Linked DNA regions of Homo sapiens: all the other regions are reported to be linked to region 4. The links are microRNA targets in miRTarBase. Many come from high-throughput screens and were not tested one by one. Region 4 holds a microRNA gene; each other region holds the end of a gene's coding sequence.
The links. The annotated mature microRNA hsa-miR-6720-5p reads UUCCAGCCCUGGUAGGCGCCGCG and lies in region 4 at 2,880-2,902, shown strand. An mRNA with a match to its seed (bases 2 to 7 or 8) in the 3' UTR can be bound and repressed. Matches are read on the target gene's strand: a 7mer-m8 pairs with bases 2 to 8, a 7mer-A1 pairs with bases 2 to 7 and ends in A, and an 8mer does both.

Region 1 (6,238 bases), not on the chromosome of region 4:
GACTGCTGGAGTGTGGTGGCATGATCATAGCTCACTGCAGCCTCGACCTCCTGGGCTTAGGTGATCCTCCTGCCTCAGCCTCCCAAGTAGCTGGGACCACAGGTGCATGCTACCACACTTGGCTAATTTTTGTATTTTTTGTACAGATAGGGTCTTGCCCTGTTGCCCAGGCTGGTCTTGAAGTCTTGGGCTCAAGTGATCCTCCCACCTCAGCCTCCCAAAGTGCAGGGATTACAGGCATGACTCACAGTGCCCTGCTGAGAACCATCCTTTCATCAGACATTTGTTAGGCAGTCGCTGTGATTCTGCCTCTCCCTCACCGCATCCCCATCAAACTGATACAGCTGTATCTCCTACATATTTACCTAATCGGTCCATCTGTGCCCTTAGGCCCGCAACTACTGTTGTTGAGCCACCTTCAGATTTCAGTTCCTCAAATCCAGCCCCCATCTCATCCCAGGGCACTAAGGGAAATGTAAATGTGACTTCTGCCAAAATCCTTCAGAAACTATTATTTGTAAAACAGGATAAAGTTCCAGTTCCTGGCTGGGCACGGTGGCTCACACCTGTAATACCAGCACTTCGGGAGGCTGAGGCGGGCAGATCACTTGAGGTCAGGAGTTAAAGACCAGCCTGGCCAACATGGTGAAACCCTGTCTCTACTAAAAATACAAAAATGGCTGGGCGCGGTGGCTCACGCCTGTAATCCCAGCACTTTGGGAGGCCGAGGTGGGCAGATCACAAGATCAGGAGTACGATACCAGTCTGGCCAAGATGGTGAAACCCTGTCTCTACTAAAGAAACAAAAAATTAGCTGGGTGTGGTGGCGCACACCTGTAATCCCGGCTACTCTGGAGGCTGAGGCAGGAGAATCACTTGAACCTGGGAGGCGGAAGTTGAAGTGAGCCGAGATCGTGCCACTGCACTCCAGCCTGGGCAACAAGAGCGAAACTTTGTCTGAAAAGAAAAAAAAAAAAAAAGATCTGGGTGATGTGGCACACGCCTGTAATCCCAGCTACCTGGGAGGCTGAGGCAGGAGAATTGCTTGAGCTGGGGAGGCAGAGGTTGCGGTGAGCAGAGATTGTGCCACTGTACTCCAGCCTGGGCAACAAAGCGAGACTCCGTCTCAAAAAAATAAACAAAATTTAAAAGTTCCAGTTCCCCAATTTGACCCACACAGGCTCCTCCCTCTCCCTCCCTCTGAAGGACATCTGACCTGCCTGGTCCCCGATGCTCCAGTCACATGGAATTGCCTGTGGTTTCTGCACCTGCTGTTCTCTCTCCTCTAGCTCGCGACATAGCCTCATTTTGGACGGCACCTCCGCTGGGAAGCCTTCCCTAACCACTCCCCATTAATACTGTTCACTTTATTTGTCCACTGCTGGCATTGTTTTATAATTAGCTATTCGTCTGTTTGCCTTCCTCTCTAATTGACTATGAACTCTTTGGGGGCAGGACGGTGTCTTATTCAACTTTGTATGACCAGCCCTTGATAGAGAAGCAAGCACAAAGCAGTTGCACAATATGAGTTTGTGGAATGAAAACATGAACTCCTGAAAAGGGGCAAATGGCCAGGTGCGGTGGCTCACACCTGGAATCCCAGCACTTTGGGAGGCTGAGGTGGGTGGATCACCTGAGGTCAGGAGTTCGAGACCAGCCTGGCCAACATGGCAAAACCCCATCTCTACAAAAAGTACAAAAATTAGCTGGGCATGGTGGTGGGCGCCTGTAATTCCAGCTACTCAGGAGGCTGAGGCACAAGAATGGCTTGAACCTGGGAGGCGGAGGTTGCAGTGAGCCAAGACGGAAAAGAAACAACCTTAGAATACTCATAGAACTTTAAATTGTAATGAGATATAATTGTTGATGGCTAAACACACACACAAAAATTATATATACTTTTTAGAAGCTTTAGTGGCTGGGCACAGTGGCTCACACCTGTAATCTCGGCACTTTAGGAGGCCAAGGTGGGAAGATCTTCTGAGGTCAGGAGTTCGAGAGCAACCTGGCCAACATGGCAAAACTCCATCTCTACTAAAAATGCAAAAAAATTAGCTGCACGTGGTGGCATGCGCCTGTAGTCCCGGCTACTCGAGAGGCTGAGGCAGGAGAATCGCTTGAACCTAGGAGGCCGAGGTTGCAGTGAGCTGAGATCGTGCCATTGCACTCCAGCCTGGGCAACAAGAGTGAAACTCCATCTCAAAAAATAAATAAATAAATAAATATGGACAAAGTTGTATACTATGTCATTGCTTATTGTATCAAAACAGATCAGAACAACCCAACCTTCCATTGGCGGGGGAATGATTTAAATAATTGTGCTAGATGGAATCTCATGTAGTCATTTTTTAAATAAAGAGAGTTAGCTTTACATTTATGGACATTGAACTATATCCAGGATATGTCGTTAAGTAAAAAAGCAAGTTGAGGCTGGCCGCGGTGGCTCACGCTTGTAATCCCAGCACTTCGGGAGACCAAGGCGGGTCAGGAGTTCGAGAACAGCCTGGCCAACATGGTGAAACCCCATCTCTACTAATACAAAAATTAGCTGGGTGTGGTGGCACACACCTGTAATTGCAGCTACTCAGCAGGCTGAGGCAGGAGAATCGCTTGAACCCGGGAGGCAGAGGTTGCAGTGAGCTGAGATTGCACCACTGCACTCCAGCCTGGGCAACAGAGCAAAACTTCGTCTCAAAAAGAAAAAAAAAAAAAAAAAAAGAAGCTGAGGAACAGTATGCTTAGTATGCTAAAATTTTTTGTTTAAAATATTTGTTGACATGTACACAGAAAAACATCTGAAAGAAAGCACCTCAACTGTTGATGAGACTCTCTGAGCACTGAGATAGAAGGGGCTGCCCCTGGCCGGGCGCGGTGGCTCATGCCTATAATCCCAACACTCTGGGAGGCCGAAGCTGTGGAGCCCTTGAGTTTGGGAGTTCAAGACCAGCCTGGCCAACATGGTGAAACCCTGTCTCCACCAAAAAATACAAAAATTAGCCGGGCATGGTGGCGGGCGCTTGTAATCCCAGCCACTCAGGAGGCTGAGGCAGGAGAATCGCTTGAACCGGGGAGACAGAGGTGGCAGTGAGCCGAGATCATACCACTGCACTCCGGCCTGGGTGACAGACTGAGACTCCATCTTAAAAAAAAAAAAAATAAAGCTCGGGGGGAGGGTTGCCCCTTTTCTTTTCTGACTAGGTAATATGTGAGCAAAGAATTCAAACAAGACCAAAAAGCTGCCAGGGAAAAGTAGATTCTACCTCTCTCTTGACCCACAGACGCCTCTGGGGAGAAAGGAAATCTCCGTTTTACTTTATACATGTCTGTAATGTTAGTACTTTTTATTTTTTTAACAAAGATCATTGCTTTTTATTATACTTTATCAAATTCAATCTAGTAACAAAAGTAAAAAAGAATGTTCACTGTAGAAAATTTGCAAACTATACAAAAGTTTCAGAAGAAAATAAATATCACCTACAATCTCATCTTCCAGAGGAAAAAACCATTTAGTGCCTTTCCCTTGAATCTGTTTTTATACACATACATCCTTTTTAAAAAGTTCATAGACCAGGCGTGGTGGCTCATGCCTGTCATCCCAGCACTTTGGGAGGCCGAGGCAGGTGGATCACGAGGTCAGGAGATCGAGACCATCCTGGCTAACATGGTGAAACCCTGTCTCTATTAAATATACAAAAAAATTAGCCAAGCGTGGTGGAGGGCACCTGTAGTCCCAGCTACTCGGGAGGCTGAGGCAGGAGAAGGGCGTGAACCCGGGAGGCAGAGCTTGCAGTGAGCCGAGATCGCACCACTGCACTCCAGCCTGGGGGACAGAGGGAGATTCTGTCTCAAAAAAAAAAAAAAAAATTTGTTTAGCCAATCTTTTATCAGCAAACATGTAGGTTGTTTGCTATTTCAGAAAAATGTTTTGCACGTGAAAGAAAGAATAGCCCTTATGAGGCACACAGGGTCCAGGACAGCAGAGCAAAAGTCCCTGCAGGCAACCCTTCCTGACCCCATCCTACAGGGTCTCTGCCCAGGCCTTCCTGGGCCCCTCCGGGAGCACTGCCAGGGGCCTGGGCCAACTGGCCTGGAAGCCTTGCCTTTTCCCTGTGGAGGCGCAGAGGCTCTGGTTTGTCTGTCCTGGCCCCGGGATCATTTTCCAGCACACAGCACAGTCTAGTCCATCCACTCTCCCCACTCCCCAAATTCAAGGTCATCAGGGTTCTGGTGGCCTGGAGATGGGTACAACATTCTCATACTCAGGTTCCTCCTGCCTTTCCTCTTCAGCCTGCTTCTGGGGATCCTGTTCTGGGGAGCCACAGCCAGAGACTGGCTCCTGGGCTCTCCTTGAACTCTCGGTGCCAGCCCCCAGCCCCCGGACCGCTTCCTCTGGTCTGACTGCCATAGGCCCTGTGGCCCCAGGAAGCCCAGCTTTTGGGGCTGAGTTGGGGCTCTGGCCGACAGAGCCAGAGGCAAGGCCAGGGCTGCCCTTTTTCCGATTCAGGGCCTGGCGCGGAGGCTTAGGGATGGCCCTCTTGACCTTGGCTTCCGCCTGGCCTTTCTGGAAGCTACCAAAATGGCGGAAGACAGAGCGGACAGGGCCTTCGGATCCGCGGGGCTTCCCTGCCAGCATGTAGATCGTGGTCACAGGGCCCGAGCTCTCCTGGACGCTGCCCTCAATGGCTTCCACGTGCTCAGCCACTGTCCGGCCACCAAGTGGGGGCCGCCGGTGGCCAGTGGCTGAATCCCCGGGACTGGCAGCCGCCGGAAAGGACTCGGGGGCTTCTGCTTCCTCTGGGCCTGTGGACTCTTCGGCTTCCCGGCCCTCAGGACCCGACTGCGCCCCCCGGGAGAGCCTCTTGGGCTTTCGGAGCGGGCTGGAGAGCTCCCCTGAGCTTCGGCGACTCTGTGGTGCAAACTTGGTACCTTCCGCGAAGGAGACCGATGGCCGCTTGGCCCGAGCTAGGCTGGAGGTGCGCGGGATGGCGAATGGCGTGGAGGCGTCCTCAGGGGGCGGGAAAGCACCTGCAGCCAGGCTGGCCTCTGACGACCCTGCCTGGGCCACAGGGACCATCCCTGGCAGAGGAGACAGAAGAGCTTGGCTGGAGCTGAACTGGCCACCCCAATGCATCCTACCCACAGCTCAGCATCTTCCAGGAGGCCTCAAAAATAGGGCAAGGAAGAGGGCAAGGATGAGGAGAGTGGCAGAAGGACCAATTCAGGTAGACACTGTTACTTCTACACTTTTTTTTTTTTTAATTGTAGAGATGGGGTCTCACTATGTTGGCCAGGCTGGTATCAAACCCCTGGCCTCAAGCAGTCCTCCCGCCTCAGCCTCCCAAAGTGCTGGGATCACAGGTGTGAGTCACCACACCTGGTCTCTATACTCTTTTCTCACCACCTCTCCCTACTTTGAAATACTGTCACACTCTTACCAAGCTAAAACTCTTTCGATGGCACACAGCCACATCCCTCTCACCTCTGGGCCTTTGTGTATGCTGTTCCATCTTCCTGAAACACCATTCCCTCCTCTCCCTGACTTTCACTTGGCCAACTCCTACTGATTCTGCTAGACTCGACTGGGATGCCACACACATCGTCCCTGACCCCAGTCACCCCAACATGGCTAGCAAATGAGTCCCTACTTGTATGTCCCCCATGGAAACACATATCACTGTGTCCTGTCATTGTCTGATGACTGCCCATCTGACTCTAAGCCTGGTGAGGATAGGAATCTGTCTTGTTATCTCTTGCATGCCCGGAGCCAAGAACAGTGACTAACACAAAATGGGCCCTTAATAACTGTTTGCTGGCCAGGCGCAGTGGCTCATGCCTGTAATCCCAGCACTCTGGGAGGCTGAGGCGGGTGGATCACGATCCTGGCTAACACGGTGAAACCCGGTCTCTACTAAAATATAAAAATTAGCCGTGTGTGGTGGTGCACGCCTGTAATCCCAGCTATTTGGGAGGCTGAGGCAGGGGAATCACTTGAACCCGGGAGGCAGAGGTTGCAGTGAGCTGAGATCGCACCACTGCACTCCAGCCTGGCGACAGAGCAAGACCCAGTCTCAAAAAAAAATAAAAATAAATAACTTTGCTGGAGGACTAAAGAGGGGGTCGTGGTGGGCAGGGCTGCTCAGGGGCTATGTGGGCTGTTGGGGGGCTACCTTCTTGGGGTGGCACACAGTAGGCAGGAACCTCATCTGCCTCTCCAGACTCAGGATCGGATGAGAAGGAG
Region 2 (3,000 bases), not on the chromosome of region 4:
GGAAATGGGTCTAGAGATAGTCTTTTCTCAGATCCTGAAACTCAGATATATAGGGGAGAATCCATTGTGAGGGAATATTATTAGTAAAAGACCCATTTTACCTCATCCTCATGAAGGCCAGTGTGAAAAGAGGCATTGAGACTCCCCTAGGAGGAATGGTGGTTAGCAGATGGCTGCTATTGTCAAGGAGATGGCGTCAGCCTCTTCCCTGGAAGGCACAAAGTAGAGTTCTTACTGTAGGATATGAAGACTTACGAAGGTGTCTCGCATCTGTTTTTTTACAGACAGGTGCAGTTCAGGAGCAGATGAGATCCAAGGGAAACCGAGATAGGCCATGGAGCAATTCTAGGGGCTTATAGCTCCAATAATGGAATGGTGAGTGATTAGAGAAACCCATCTAACACCTCAGCCCCCATAACAGCACAACCTGATACCCTGACTCAGAACCCTGATCTTATGCAAGAAAGGGAGGTGTGGCCGGGCATGGTGGCTTATGCCTGTAATCCCAGCACTTTAGGAGGCCGAGATGGGTGGATCACTTGAGGCCAGGAGTTCAAGACCAGCCTGGCCAACGAGGCAAAACCCTGTCTCTACCAAAAAATACAAAAATTAGCCGGGCACAGTGGCGTGCTCCTGTAGTCCCATCTACCTGGGAGGCTGAGGCATGAGAATCACTTGAACCTGGGAGGCGGAGGTTACAGTGAGCTGAGATCGCGCCACTGCACTCCAGCCTGTGTGATAGAGCAAGACTCTATCTCAAAATATAAAAAAAGAATGGGAGATAGGGAGGAATTAGAAGGGAAGATTCAAGAATGTAGGATCTAGGCCGGGCATGGTGGCTAACGCCTATAATCCCAGCACTTTGGGAGGCCGAGGTCAGCAGATGACTTGAGGTCAGGAGTTTGAGACCAGCCTGGCCAACATGGTGAACCCCTGTCTCTACTAAAAGTACAAAAATTAGCCAGGCATGATGGCACACGCCTGTAATCCCAGTTACTCAGGCGGCTGAGGCCGAAGAATCACTTGAACTCGGGAGGTGGAGGTTGCAGTGAGTCTAGATTGCGCCACTGCACTCCAGCCTGGGCAACAGAGTGAGATTCCATCTCAAAAAAAAAAAGAATGTAGGATATAGAAAGACTGAGAGGGTGTTGTGCAGACAGAAGTAAAGAACACACTGTGGAAATAGCTTAAAGTCTGCACTAGGTAGTGCCTTCTTCCTAAAGCCTTGGTTTTCTTTGAGGCTAATCTTCTTTAAGAAAAACTTTTTTTTTATTTCAGGTTCTGCCATCTTGAAACCCCCATTCTGTTTCCAGCCCAGAAGAAATGCTGCCCCTACCAGATCCCTCCTTGAACCAGTGATCTAAGGACCCCTCTTTTCCCTATCTGCCTAACAGTGCCTCACAAGGCTTGGGGGCTGGACTCCCTCTACTCCCTCTGGCCATAGCCCCTCCTGGAGATGGGGTCAAGGCAGCAGGACTGATCAAGTGACTACTGGTTAGCCAGAGGAGCTCAGCTGAAGCCCTGGAAACCCTCAGGTCTGAGATAGGAGTTCTCTAGGAACCTGGAATGAGTTCCTGTCTCCTGAATGATGGTCTGGGTGCCACCTGTTTTTAAACTCTTAAACCTGGAACTCCTTAAATGGGGTAGGTGGGTGAGATTATCAAAGCTGAAGCTGGCTTTGCTGAGAAGCTCCCTACCTCCCTGCCCTTCTCCTCCTTCCTGCTGGAATGAACTAAAGCAGATGTCAAGCAGGGGCTGGTGGGGGTGCCTACTCCCTTTTCCACTCTATCTTTAGATTTCAAACCTTAGGCTTACAGCCCCTCAATATCTCTCTGCTAACACCAGTGTCTCTTTCTAGTTAGGCCTCTAATCTTCTGTTTCTGTTTACCAGCTTCCCAGCAACTTTCCTTTTTTAAAATATTAAAAATTTAATTCAGGTTCTCTTAATTATCCTCATCCTGCTGTTGCCTCCGCCCTTAACTCTATCCCTATTAGGAACCTTGTTTCCCACCGAATAAGAGTTAAGGTAAGAGGTAGCTCTTCACCTGATGACATTCCATTTAAGTTTTGGGGCATCTTTCCTGCCCTCTGCCAACCTCCCTGCTGGCCCAGGTGAGAGGAGGAAGAGGGGTCTGGAAAGAAACCCAGAATGCGGCAGAACTAGGAGTAAGTCCATCTCAAGGTGGACTTCTGATCATTGAGGATGGTGAGATAAATAGGTTGAAAACAATCATCTGTGAGTTTAGGAGTCTTAAGATCCTCACAGCACGGGAGCAGGGAGAGGCTCTAGAACAAGGTTTCACAACCGAGATGCCTTTGACATTTTGGGCTGAAGTGTTCTTTGTAAGGAAAACCTGTTTCCTATTTTGTGCATTACAGGATATTTAGCAGCAACCCTGGCCCACTCTAGTTATGACAACCAAAAATGTCTCTATACATTGCCAGATTTCTCCTAGGGGGCAAAATCGCCTCCATTTGAGAACCACAACTCTAAAGTCAAGATATTTTTCTCTGAAGTGATTTCTGCTTGGCACGCTACCCTCATCATCTTACTCATCTTAAGCCCGAGCCATGGATCAACTAGGAGCCCATATAAATGAGGCTCAGTAGGGCTGCACATAATCTCCAAACAATTCTTTATTCAGTGTTTTGCTTGTGTTTGCATGTTGCTATGATGGACAGGTCCCCCTCCTCCATTCTTGCCCTCTGGAGAAGTGGTTCCTGCAGTGTAGAGATATGAACAGGGTATGGTAGGATTGGGGAAAGGGGAGAGAGAAGCAGTAGATACACTCCTTATCCTCCCCAAATTTTAAGCTCTATTTCTGTGCCCTAGTCCTAGACACACATTAGACTCAGGGAGTTTTGTCTGAAGACCAGGTCCCACTGCCCCCTGGCTGAAGAGTCTGCTTTAAATGGGAAAACAACGTAGGAGCAGGGGTTTTTAGGCACTTTCAGTATTCTCAGGTGTTCTTCGTTCTGGCCCTTCCAGGGTAATTAGGA
Region 3 (6,238 bases), not on the chromosome of region 4:
CCTGCGCCTCTGCCTGTAATTTGCGTAATGAGAATTGTCCTGAAAAGGCTTCTAGTCTCCTCAGGCCTTGCCCCTGCCGCCCGCACCCTGAGGAGGGGGCATGCCAAGGAAAACATTTGGAAGGTGGGAGGGTCCCTGGTGAATACACAGACTTGGACCCTGGGTTTGGTCCTGTTCCACCTGTCCTCTCTCCCTTCCCTTCCTCCCTTCCTTCCTTCCTTCCTTCCTTCTTTCCTTCTTTCCTTCCTCCCTCCCTCTTTCCCTCTCTCCCTTCCTTCCTTCCTCTTTTTCTCCTCCTCCTCCTCCTTTTCTGTCTTAAGGAGGCAGTGCAGGGAGACCTGGAACAGCAGGACCAGCTCTTCCCAGACCTGTTTGGATCTGAGCCTGAATCTCTAGGAAGGCGCAGTGAGGAGAGGGGGAGAGATTTGGTTCTCATCACTCACTGCTCCTTTATTTTATTATTTTATTATTTTTTATTTATTGAGAGATGGGGTCTTGCTGTGTCACCCAGGGTACAGTGCAGGGGTGCAGTCTCGCTCACTGCAGCCTTCAACTCCTGGGCTTCCCGGAACCTCCCTTCCTGGCCCCCGACTGGCCTCAGTTCTCCTCTTGCCTCTGGGTCAATCCACTGCTACCAAAGCCGGCTCCTGTGGAGAGGAAGCCTCCTGCGATGGGCCCTGTTTAACAGGGACACTCAGACGTCTCCTAGACAAAAAAAAAAAAAAAAATTGGTCTCATTAACTCCAAACTATCCATTTCCACTTGGTGGTCCTGAGTCCGCATTCCTTGGGGAGTGGGCACTGATAGTGAGGGAACAGCCCCGCCCTCTGCAGGGCCAGGCCTTGGCGCTGGGGCCTTGAGTGTAGTGGTACAAGCAGCAACGGGAGGGGCTGGGGCGAGGACCGGAGCCGGCTGTGGGCCTCACTGCCCTTTGGTCCCCAGCCCAGGCGCAGTCGAACCTCCTGGGGAAGTGCCGCCGGCCGCGCACCGCCTTCACCAGCCAGCAGCTGCTGGAGCTGGAGCACCAGTTCAAGCTCAACAAGTACCTGTCGCGGCCCAAGCGCTTCGAGGTGGCCACCTCGCTCATGCTCACCGAGACCCAGGTGCGCGCCCTCCCCGCCCCCGACGCATCCCGGCCTCCCAGGGGACACTGTTACCTTTGCACTTGTGACCCACGGGCGGTCTGAGGCATCTAGCGCTGCGCCTCGACGGTTCAGACGGCGGGCGCACGGGTTCATCTAAGGTGCCCAGAGCGCCGATTCAGTAGCTTCGGGTGGGGCCCAAGAATCAGCACTTAACCACCCCTCCTTTCATTCTGAAGAAGGTGATCCCCAGGCCGCATTCGAGAAATTTTGTTCCAGAAAGAGAGGAGGGAACATCCTGAGATTTACCGCGACGTAGCCAGCTGCCCTGACCCTTCCTCCGCAGACGGAGGGCGCGGGTAGAAAAGTCCCCGGCCTGGGTCGTTGGGGACATAGTCCTAGCTCCCACGGAGCTCCAGCCCAGCTCTGGGGTTTGCTGCTGAGTGGGGGGTTGCGGGGAGGAGGAAGCTACGAGCCCCCTCCCCATTCTGCTTCTAAGTCGTCTCACCCTGAGGCCATTCCAGGGCCGACCCAATGGGGCCCAGGCGCACGCGGCCGGGGGACTCCGGGGACAGGAAGCCCTGGGGTGGCGGTGGCCGGTTTCTCACGCCCGCTTGTGCCCGCAGGTGAAGATTTGGTTCCAGAACCGGCGGATGAAATGGAAACGCAGCAAAAAGGCCAAAGAGCAGGCGGCGCAGGAAGCGGAGAAACAGAAGGGCGGCGGCGGGGGCGCGGGGAAGGGCGGCGCGGAGGAGCCGGGAGCCGAGGAGCTGCTGGGGCCGCCAGCGCCCGGAGACAAGGGCAGCGGACGCCGCCTGCGGGACTTGAGGGACAGTGACCCCGAGGAGGACGAGGACGAGGACGACGAGGACCATTTCCCCTACAGCAACGGCGCCAGCGTCCACGCCGCCTCCTCCGACTGCTCCTCGGAGGACGACTCGCCGCCCCCGCGGCCCAGCCACCAGCCCGCGCCCCAGTAGGAGCCCCGCGGCCCAGCAGGTGCGGCGCGCACGGAGCGCCCCGGCCGGCGGCTTCTCCCGGAGGCCCCGGCGCCCGCACCCACCCGGCCCGGCCCCGAGAGCAGGCTCGACCGCCGCCCCATGGACCCCTCGCCCAGGCCGGGGCTGGAGGGATTCGGCCGCGGCTCCGGTCCTGGGCGCTTCCCTTTTAAGCAAGGGCGCCTCACCTGCTCTTCAAGAAACAGCGAGAGGGAGACCCAGGGGGCTGAAACTTGAACTCTGGTTCTTTTAAAATTAATTTTGGTTGGTGTTGGGGGAGGCGCGAGTGCGTGTGAGAAGAACCGACCCACCCCGCGCAAGGGGAAGCCTCCTGTCTCCCCTTTCCCCGCGTCCGAGAAGGCGGAAACCCACAGTGTTACCTGACTTATGAAACTTGAAACCGCCTCTGGAGCCGCCATTCTGCAGAGTATTTGGAAAAAGAAAAAAGGGTTTATGCTTACGTCTCTGGGGTCGGGGGGATTATGTCACGAGCGTTCAAACTGCTGGAAATCTCAAAACTGTACTGTCTTTATTTTTGTATATTGTATTTATATATAAAAAGAAACGTCTACGTATGCATGCTAAATTATTATTTAGCTTCTCCCATCGCCCACGATGGAATGTAAAATAAATTGGTTTTGTACTGGATCAGCGTGCACGAGTTTTGGGGGATTATGCCCGCGGCATTACAATTTGCTTGTAGAAATGATGGGGAGGGTGTCTACTCGGCGGTTGGCAGCTGAGGGTGAAAATCGGAGTCTCAAGTGGGTGTCAGGACCACCTCCGCGCCTGCTACTGGGGAGTCGCAATGTGAAGTGTTGGCAAAAATACCTGTGGCCAGGTGTCAGCGCATGCCCGGCTGCCTGGTGCACACCTGTCCCGGGACACGTGTCCCTCGGAAGCGGAGCTGTGGACTCTATTTATTTTCCTATTTCCTTGCTAGCTGTTGCTTCGTTGGCACTCCAGAAGTGGAAATACGCTATTTGGACGTTTCAGAAAATAAGCTTAAAACGACTAGGCGTTAGTAGCATGTGGGGTCCCTGTGACCTCAGGCGCTACTGAGGCACATTTCCCGGAACGCACCGAATTGCGCGGTGCTTCTCTCTCTCCTCGACCCCGGCCCTCTCTGTTAGCAGAACCTTCCTTGGCTGGCCAGGATCGGTCTTCTTGGCTCTGTGCAAACAAGTCCGCGAGGACAGCGGCGGACTGCAGCAGCGCTCCACACCGCGGCTGCAGCGGCTCCGGGTTAATCAGCCTCTGCAGCGCGCGCCATCAATCACCGCAGCCAGGCCCAGCGCCATGTGCTGCACACATGCGGGCTCAGCCCGCGCTCTCGTCCGCCCAGGAGCGCAGGCCCGCGGCCCACCCAGCCCGGCGCGACTCCCGGCCCCCTTCCCCCATCGATGACCCAGTGGCCTCTCCTGGCCCCGGAGGAGACGGGCGACGGGGACGCCGCTCCTATCCCTTCTCCCGGGCCTTCCTCCTTCCTTCTGTTTGTCACTTTCTCAGCAGCACCTGCGTGTGCCCTTCTCCTCCCTCCTCCCCTCCCCTCCTCCCAGCGGATAAAATGAGTTCAGAAGGGCCTGGCGTTTCATTTGGGTGATTACCGCGGGGCGAGCGCAGCCACTCCTCTGCCTCAGGGCGCGGGGAGATTAATATCCTCTCTGGCAACTCATTATCACCCCGGGCCCCTTCCATAAAATCAACCTCATCCAAGGCCGGGGCGCGGCTGCTGGGAGTCCGGGCAGAAGCAGCTGCTGGGCGCTGGCGCAGGGGCCGGGCCTCCGCCGCCTGGGGTCCAAAGGTGTTTAGGGGAACTGGGAGAGGGTTTGCCACTGGTGGAGGAGGCAGAGTGCCCAGAGGAAGAGGGTGGGAAAACCAGAGGGAAGGGGGGAAGACAGATGCTTTTTTTTTTTTTTTTTTTTTTTTTTTTAATCTGCAATCCCTACATTTCTTTTTAATTTCTAACACATTGGTGAGGTTCAGCCTGCAGCAATCTCTCCCCTGGCTGGCCCCACATCTGGGGATTATTTTCCCCTTGGGCTCAGCCGGCCCAGCCTCAGCGCCCTCACCAACACTGGGCAGCCAGGGAAGAGTGGGGGCTCGGCCTGGAGCTGGGGTGCCCCAGGCCTCCGCGGAGGGTCTGTCCCTCTACCCCCAGGGGACAGGCGCTTCCTCTGGGACGCGGGGAAGAGCGACATCAAAGGAAGACGCTGTTAATAGGGCCGCCCCTCCCCCGTCCTCCAGCAGAGCCAGGCCCCGGACCTGCGCCGGCCCCTGCGCCTCCAGCAGGCCGCTCAGTCGCCGCGGAATTTATCTCGCTAATAAATTTAATGATCAATTCGTTCTTGTCACAGTAGCTCTTCCCCAAATCAATTATAGCAAATTTAAATATAATCACTGGCTCGTCCTCATCCACTCCGGGCACGGTGAACAATTCATTCTGCCTAATGAACGGTCTCGAGGCCCGGCTCTGCCCGCCTTGCGGGCGCGACCCCCACCCCTGGGCGCCGCGCTCGGGGTCGCTGACTCGGCTCGGCCTGGGGCGGTGGTCCCTCGGGGCCCAGGCCTCCAATCGCACCTGAGCCGCCAGCTGACCCCGCGCATGGGGGAGAAAGTCTTTGCAGCCCTCAAGAATCCGGTTCTCCGGACCTGAAGCCAGGTCTACGCAGGGGGACCCCGGAGGGAGCTGAGGCGGTGTTTTCAGACAGGCCCAGGCTTCCCCCACGGGACATGTCTGCTGTCCTCTAGCTGTCCCGGAGGCCTGCGGATCTCACTGCCTTCAACAGAAGCGAAGGTACGCGGGGGGAGACCCCTGCGGCGGCCGTCACTGCGACCCGGGGCTCTGGGCCCCACCCAAAGCTGACCCTGTCCCCTGGAACCCAGCCTTGCCTCCTTGCCCTACCGAGGCCCCCACCTCTTGGCCACCGTTTTCTTTGCTCCAATGTGGGTTCTCCTCCCTTCTTAGAAAGGGGGGCCTTGCTGTGGGCGAATTCTGCCGGGCGTGCAAACGCATGTGGAGGAAGCCTTTTTTGTGACGGGAGAAAACAGTTCACACACGCCCCCCAGACGGAGGCCCAGGGGGCTCCTTTCCAGCCCCTCCTGGAGCTCCGGCTGCCAGGTGAGAGGCAGCCAGGAGACCCCGGTTAATCCCTGGTGTCAGGGAGTAAAGAAACAGCTCGAAGGGAGAGGAGGTGGACCTGTCCCTTCCCTCATCCGGTGACTTTCCTTCTTTGATACTGAACACAAGGCAACCAAAGCAAAAATAGACAAATGGGACTGCATCAAACTGAAAAACGTACGCGCCACAAAGGACGATCAACAAGAGTGAAAGGCAACCTGGGGATGGGAGATATCATCTGCAACACGCGAATCAGGGAATGGGTTAATGTTCAGATTATGTAACTCTCAGCACTCTACAACAAAACCAAATTAAATGGGCAAATGACTTGAATAGATATGACTCCAAATAAAATTTTGAAACGGCAACACACATATGAAAAGATGCTCAACACCAATAAGCATCAGGGAAATGCAAATCAGAGCCACAGATCCACCTCACACCTGCTAAGATGGCCAATATAAAACAAACAAAAAGCACAGAAAATAGCAAGTGTTGGTGAGAATGTGGAGAAATTGCAGCTGTGGTCAGAATGTAACATGGCATAGCCATTATGTAAAATAGTACAGAATTTCCCTCAAAAAATTAAAAATCAGGCTGGGCGCAGTGGCTTACGCCTGTAATCCCAGAGCTTTGGGAGGCCAAGGCGGGTGGATCACGAGGTCAGGAGTTCAAGACCAGCCTGGCCAAGGTGGTGAAACCCCGTCTCTACTAAAAATACAAAAAATTAGCCGGGCGTGATGGCGGGCGCCTGTAGTAGCAGCTACTTGGGAGCTGGGGCAGAGAAGTGCTTGAACCCTGGAGGCGAAGGTTGCAGTGAGCCGAGAACGTGCCATTGCACTCCAGCCTGGGCGACAGGGCTCAAAAAAAAAAAAAAAAAAAAAAAAAAAGTCAAATTACCATACGATCCAGCAGTCTCAGTTCTGGGTATATATCCAAAAGAATTGGAAAAAACAAAAAGATCTCAAAGAGACATTTGCACACCCGAGTTCATTGCAGCACTCTTCACAATTGCCAAGAGGTGGACGCAGCCTACG
Region 4 (6,238 bases):
CAGCCCCTGCGCCGGCAGGGGCACATGGACCATGGCCACCAGGCCCAGGAGCGGAGGGCGCGGCCCTTGGGGTGTGCTGGGGGAGGGAGGGTCGTGCTGGGTGTGTGCGCGTAGACATGTGCTGATCTGTGTGCCGGGGAGACTGCCTTGGCCACCCCCGCGCCTCGCCGGGCCCCCAGGCCTCAGTGGGCGGCGCGCTCCCAACTAGGCCCCGCGGGGTCCCGGTGCATCCGGCCGGCTCCTCCGAAGCCTCCACCGCTGGCGCTCCAGGGAGATGGCAACAGGGCCGGGTGGGTATCCTATAGGGACGGGAGCAAGACAGCGAGGAAGGAAGGGCAGAGGGTCCCTGTCGGGCGTCAGGCCCGAGCTATTGTCTCCCCCGGGCGTTCCCAGACTCGGTCGGGGGTTCTGCGAGGCTCCCAGGGAAGGCCGGCCGCGGGAGGCCGCTGGGTAGGGGCACAGAGGCCGGCTTGCTTTGCTGGGCAGTTTTCACCCCCTCCAAGACAGTAATGTATCCAGATTCCGAAGTTTTGGGAGCTTGTGCCTGCGCCCAGTGTTATGAGGTGGGGCGAGAGCAGCCTTGAGGAAGGGTCAGGAGTCTCTTTCCTGTGTGCTTTTTTTTCTTCCTAGAGTACGGTTTCTCCAAGGCTGCTAAGCCTCAGAGTCCGGGTTCAAGTTGAGTGGATCTGCCGGGAGAGGAGAAGAAGGGGAGCAGGGAGGGCAGCTGGCAGGCTGGGAGAGGAGCAGGCAGGCGGGGAAGGGAAGGGGCCAGTGCACCGAGGGGTGTGTGTGTGTGTGTGTGTGTGTGTGTGTGTGTGTGTGTGTGATTGACAGCCGGTCCAAGGGAATACAAAAATAAGAGGGGAAGGCCGCCTGTATTGGTTACTTGTTGAAATTCCCATAAAATTGAACAAGACTCTGTTCTCAGTGGGTTAAGTCAGGCTAAAATCCTCTCCGGTGTGGTCCTGCCGAGACTGTCTTTGTTTGGTTAACCTCTGAGACCCACATTTAAAAGGCCTATTTGGGAAATTTCACCGTCCAGGGAACCAACATCTTTTGCCCATTTCTGGGCTTTCCTTCTCCCCGGGTGCTCCCGCTGCACACCGGCTCAGGAACACATAAAGCATGCATCACCCTCCAAGCCACTGTCTCATTGCTGTGGGAGGCCAGTGTGAGAGAGTAGCTTGGGGCCTTGCCTTTGACTGGCAGGCCCATGGGATTTTAATCTGCAGCCCTAGGTGCTCCGAGCGAGGGGTTAATGTAAGGGTTTATCTCTGTTCTTCACATTAACCTGGTCAAATATTCAAATTCCCTCTTCCATCCCTACCGTCCCCTCCCACCTTTCACCGCCTTCAGCAAGTCAATAATTTTTCATAATCTGCAACCAGAACAATGTAAACCAGCCACACTACAAGTGGCATCCACAGGGCAGGCGCATTTCTCAGGGGAGTCCTAGCAGGGTCCTTCAGGTCCTGCCACCCAGGACCTGTATCATCAATGTGGGTCCATTGTTGGGCGGGGGGGGAGGCAGGGAAGGGGAGGAGTCTCCAACAGTTTGGTGACCCCCTCCACTGGCAAATGTCCCTTTAGTGAAAGATCCTGGGATCCAGCTCTGTCCCTCCCACCCCCTCCTCTTAACACTTGCCCAGCTGCAAACATCTCGCTGCAGACACCCCAACATACAGAACATATCTGATTCTGACATTTACTTCGGGACAGAAGTACAGCAAAATGAACGCAAGGAAAAAAAGGGACAAAAGGAACTAGACACAGCTTCCTGACCAAGTTCCCCAAAGGCCAGATGCCTTCTCTCCAAGCTAAGTGAGACTCTGAACGGGAGACCTGCAGTCTCCTGCACAGGGATCCCCAAAGAGCCCAGGAAGGCAGGGGACTTTACACCACGCTCACAGCAGCCAGACAATTCTGAAGCTTCGGCTGCTGGCCAGGGATACTGGGAGGACAGTAAGACCCTGATCCCTGCTCCCACGAATAAGATGCCGGCTTTCCCCAGCATCTGCTTTTCCCAGTGCCCTCAGACCTCCTAGCTTCGGGGTCCCTGTTTGTGGGAGTGGCAGTGGCCGCCAGCCCTGGAGGCCTAGAAGCGGTGCGCCCAGCTGGCTGGGCTGGAGCGTGCTGCGTTACCTGAGAGGTCCTCGCGAGCGTTCTGGTGCAAGTAGCTCTGCTCCAGCGAGTAGGAGGACATGCTGGAGTGCAGGCCTGCCGAGGCGGCGGGGTTGCTGCTGGGCGTCAGGGCAGGCGGCTGCTTGAGGTAAGGCGAGGCGCCAGGCGAGCTCCAGTGCGCCGCAGGGCTCGTGTAGGGCGAGTGGCATTCGATGGCGCTCGCCATGGCCGGGGACGAGGGTACCGGGCTGCTGCTGCTGTCCGGCCCGTAGTCGCCGCCGCCGCCGCCCCCGGCCGCACCGACGCCCCCGGGTCCCGCGGGCACCGGGCAGCTGGCCATGTAGGTGGAACCCGGGTTGGGCGACATGTGCGGGACGTGGTGGTGGTGGTGGTGGTGAGGGTGCGCGTGGCTGGGGGCGCCCGCGCCGGCGTCGTAGCCCGCGGGCATCATGTCGAGGCCGCCGTAGCCGCCCTGGCTGTGGCAGCCGAGCGGCGCCGACGGGGGCGCCTGGAAGTCGAAGCCCTGGGGCAGCAGCGACGCCCCGAAGCCCAAGCCGCTCACCACGCGGTGGTACATGGGCTTGAGCGCCTGGCACTTCCGCCTGAAGCCGCGCGGCCGGCGGCGGAACGAGCCCTCCTCGAACATGAACTCGCTGGCCGGGTCGATGGTCCAGTAGTGGCCCTTGCCGGGCCGCCCGAGGCCCTTAGGCAGCTTGATGAAGCACTCGTTGAGCGAGAGATTGTGGCGCACCGAGTTCTTCCAGCCCTGGTAGGCGCCGCGGAAGAAGGGGAAGCGCGCCTGCAGGAACTGGTAGATCTCGCTGAGCGTCAGGCGCTTGCTGGGCGAGCTCTGGATGGCCATGACGATGAGCGCGATGTACGAGTAGGGCGGCTTCTCGGGCCGCCGCAGCCCCGAGCTCGCCTTCTTGGCGCCCCCGCTCCCGGCGCCCGCGCCGCCGCCGCCCGCGCTCTTGCAGGCAGCCGAGGGGGCGCTGGCCGAATTGGAGGAGGACGAGGACGAGGCGCAGGAGGCGGAGGACGACGACGAGGAGGAGGAGGTGGTCTCCGGGGCGGCGGCGGCGGCGGCGGCGGCGGCGGGCGGCGGGCTCATCAGGGCGGCCTGGAGCGCGCCGGGGACCGGGCTGCACGCGCGGCGGAGCGGGGCCGGCGGCGGCCCGCCCTCGGTGGTCATCTGGGACCCGGGAGCGAGGCCGGGCCGCGAGGGCGGGCCCCGGGCGGGAAGCGGAGGCGCCGGAGCGGGGTCGGCCCAGAAGCCCTGCGAGCGCCCTAGCCCGCCGCCCGGGCTGCAGCCGTGGCCACTCCGGGCCAGCGCTTCGGCGTCGCCTCCCTCAGCTCCTCTGGGGCTTCTGGCGGCGGCGGCGGCGGCGGGCGGGAGGCAACGCCCGGCGCATCCCTCCCCGAGCCGCGGGCCCTGCCTTGCGCAACGGCCTCCCAGGCCGCGGGGCCGAGCGGCCGGCGCCGGGCGACTGCGCCCGCGAGTGGGACCGCGGCCTGGACCCCGGGGACGAGCCCGACGTCTCCCTTCAGGAGCGCTCCTCGCTCTGTCTCTCGGACTTCCTCCCTCCCTCGCCCTCCCCGGCCGCCCTCCTCGCTCCCTCCCTCCCTCCCTCCCCCCCCACCCCGCCCTGCCCCCTCCTCGCTCCGCGCCGCCGCGCTCACTCCTCCCCCTCCCGACCTGGCGGCCGCCTCCCTCTCTTATCTCGCTCCCCGCTCTCCAGGGTCTCCTCGCTCTTCATTCCTCTCGCGGCCTCCTCCCCTTTCCCTCACTCACCCTCTTTCCAATTGAGGGATCACAGACTCACTCCGGTTCTGCCAGGGGGACGACCCCCACCCCTCGCAAAACTCGACCACCTCTGACTTCATGAAATATTCTTTCTGTTTGCCCCCCGCAGCAAGCCCCGCGTCCCATCCCAGGACCCAGCCCCGCCCCTCCGCGCCCCCTTCCTCCTCCTGGCCCGCCGGGCCGAGTGGTGCTGCTGCGGGTGCGGCTGCTCGGAGCCTCCCTGGCCGCCCTCCCCAGGGCCGATACTGACTCCATCTGTCAACTTCGTTTAGACTTTGCCGCCCTCAGCCACACGCCGGGGTGCCAGACGCCCAAAGGTAACGTGCCAATCCTCTCTCTTTCTGGCAGGGCCTGCAGGCTCCCCGACAATTGTTAGGGCGACTGGGGGCCGCCGCAGGGTTGCGGGCCGCTGGCGATCGTGGACGTTTTCGGAACTTTGAGCAGAGGGATTTACACTGAGAAACCTAGGCCAAGTTTCAAAGACTCTGGAAACCTGGATCTCATGGGACTTAGGGTTGCATTTGCTTCCACTTCTTCCCCCCACCCCCGCACCCCAGTTAGTGTTCTGTAAGAAAAAAGTGCAAAAGAAAAAGGAAGGAAGGAAGAAAAGAAAGAAAGAGAAAGAAAAAGAAAGACCCTGAGATAAGCGAGATGGCTATATTTATAGTCAGTCCTGAAGGGGTGTGCAGCTGTCACTAGGTTTACATCCTCCGTCTTAACATTGCCCACCCAAAACTGTGCCAGGTCTCAGCTAACTCCTGTCCGAGAACACTTCTCCCCAGTTGTGGCTAATTCCTCCCTAAGTAAGAGTCAGGCTCTGAGAGAGATGTGCCCTCGGGAGCAATCACTTCCAATGAGACCCGACAGTTAGTTATTGGATTACACGTGCAGGGAAATGTAGTCCGACCAGGGATAGGAGCTGGGAGAGGGAGGAGGAGAGCAGGAGGCCGGAGCTGGCGGGGCCTCCCAAGGGCTGAAGGGGGAGGCCCAGAAAGAAGGTGCTGCAGACCAGCGGACCAAACAGGAGGTAGAGCTGGGCACCCCGCTGCGTCTAGGCTGAAAGGACCGAGGTGCACGGGTGTGCCTGCTGGGGAGCCTGGGGAGTTGCAGGAGGCAGGAGAAAGGGAGGTTGTGCAGTAATCAGGAGGAAGACACCAGGCAAAGAGCCTTCACAGCCGCACAGCCTAGGCAGGCCCCCTGGGGCGGCAGGAGCCCTGTGTGCCCCTGGAGTGCCGGGGGACTGCTCCTGGCTGAGTGTGCTGGTGGGGCTGTAGATGCAGAGAGGGCGGGTGGGGAGGGGAGGGGTATGTGGGAGGGGGGTGGGCCGGGGCTGGCCCCAGACAGTGACCTGAGGTTGAGTGGAAGCAGGCTTTTTCCATCAAACCCTGCCTGGATACCACACACAGAGACCGAGTGTCAGTTTACTGCCCTGAGCCGGCTCCTTCTCCCTAAGCTCCACAGTAATTAGACAAAGAAAACCTAAATTAGCTGAACAGGCGTCGACAGCTTCCTCCAGAGCACCCCTGGTACCTACATGGGAATGTGTCCGAAAATGGCTTGATTGTAGCCGAGAGTCAGCTAAGAAAACACCGCCAAACCGAACTCAGTTTACCACTCATTTCCAATAGAAAAAAGAAACAAGTCGCTCTTTTCCGGGTGGGATGTTTTGATTGGGTTGGGGTAGGGCTTCGCAGTTGTTTCCACTTTCTAAGAATTTCTGACTGACTGCTGAGCGTTTTTGGGGGGTGCGTCCCCATATATTTCATGGTATTTTTTTCTCTTGCCCTCATTTGTCATTTTGTGTGGAATAACTTAAAAATACATAACTAAATATGAAAGTAAATATAATGTGTTCACTAAACCAATGCTCTAAGTGCCTAAAATATAATTATTTTCATAAAATAGAAGCTGGAGTGGGGAGGACAGATAGGATCTTAAAGGAGCTCTACTGACATAGAGTTCAGTGTGTGTGTGTGTGTGTGTGTGTGTGTGTGTGTGCTTTAAATGGAAAGAGCCCAGGGGAGAAGCTTGTGGGGGAAAAGGACAATTATCTCATTTGTAGGTGGGGGCGGTGGGCAACGGGCTTTGGAAACATTCAGTACTCATTGTCACTTAGCCATGGACTCTCTCTGATTCTCTGTGCCTGAAAATTATATGTATTTGGATCTCAGGGAATACAGATCCAACTTGTTAAGAGCAGGCCTTAAAAGGTTTTAGGACCCGGAGACTGAAGAATAAAAGGCGCTAACCTTAAAATCCAGGCAGGACCAGTGATAACCTTCTATACTAGTAGCTCCCAGTTTTGGGGTTATG

Region 1: the mRNA of SCARF1 is a reported target of hsa-miR-6720-5p. Seed matches in the 3' UTR shown: 7mer-A1 at 4,158-4,164 and 7mer-m8 at 3,815-3,821.
Region 2: the mRNA of CDC42SE1 is a reported target of hsa-miR-6720-5p. Seed matches in the 3' UTR shown: 7mer-m8 at 1,413-1,419 and 7mer-A1 at 1,722-1,728.
Region 3: miRTarBase lists MNX1 as a target of hsa-miR-6720-5p. Seed matches in the 3' UTR shown: 7mer-m8 at 2,205-2,211 and 7mer-A1 at 2,583-2,589.

The regions. Positions count from the first base shown.
Region 1 is chr17:1,630,542-1,636,779 of GRCh38, forward strand. It overlaps SCARF1 (scavenger receptor class F member 1), which reads right to left. Exons shown (of 11, transcript NM_003693.4): 10 at 6,168-6,238; 11 at 3,317-5,076. The coding sequence ends at 4,217. Among named protein-coding and RNA genes, the nearest start is that of SLC43A2, 4.8 kb to the left of the region's middle.
Region 2 is chr1:151,051,606-151,054,605 of GRCh38, reverse strand. It overlaps CDC42SE1 (CDC42 small effector 1), which reads left to right. Exons shown (of 5, transcript NM_020239.4): 4 at 285-375; 5 at 1,279-3,000. The coding sequence ends at 359. Among named protein-coding and RNA genes, the nearest start is that of C1orf56, 5.4 kb to the right of the region's middle.
Region 3 is chr7:157,001,344-157,007,581 of GRCh38, reverse strand. It overlaps MNX1 (motor neuron and pancreas homeobox 1), which reads left to right. Exons shown (of 3, transcript NM_005515.4): 2 at 943-1,103; 3 at 1,709-2,728. The coding sequence ends at 2,062. It overlaps MNX1-AS2 (MNX1 antisense RNA 2), which reads right to left and starts at 1,275. Exons shown (of 2, transcript NR_147077.1): 1 at 1,158-1,275; 2 at 462-705. RefSeq lists a silencer at 1,686-1,880 and enhancers at 1,649-2,301, 4,018-4,724.
Region 4 is chr6:1,387,023-1,393,260 of GRCh38, reverse strand. It overlaps MIR6720 (microRNA 6720), which reads left to right and starts at 2,850; the gene lies at 2,850-2,947. It overlaps FOXF2 (forkhead box F2), which reads right to left and starts at 3,685. Exons shown (of 2, transcript NM_001452.2): 1 at 2,143-3,685. The coding sequence starts at 3,313. It overlaps FOXF2-DT (FOXF2 divergent transcript), which reads left to right and starts at 3,800. Exons shown (of 3, transcript NR_187218.1): 1 at 3,800-4,242. RefSeq lists an enhancer at 1,638-2,503.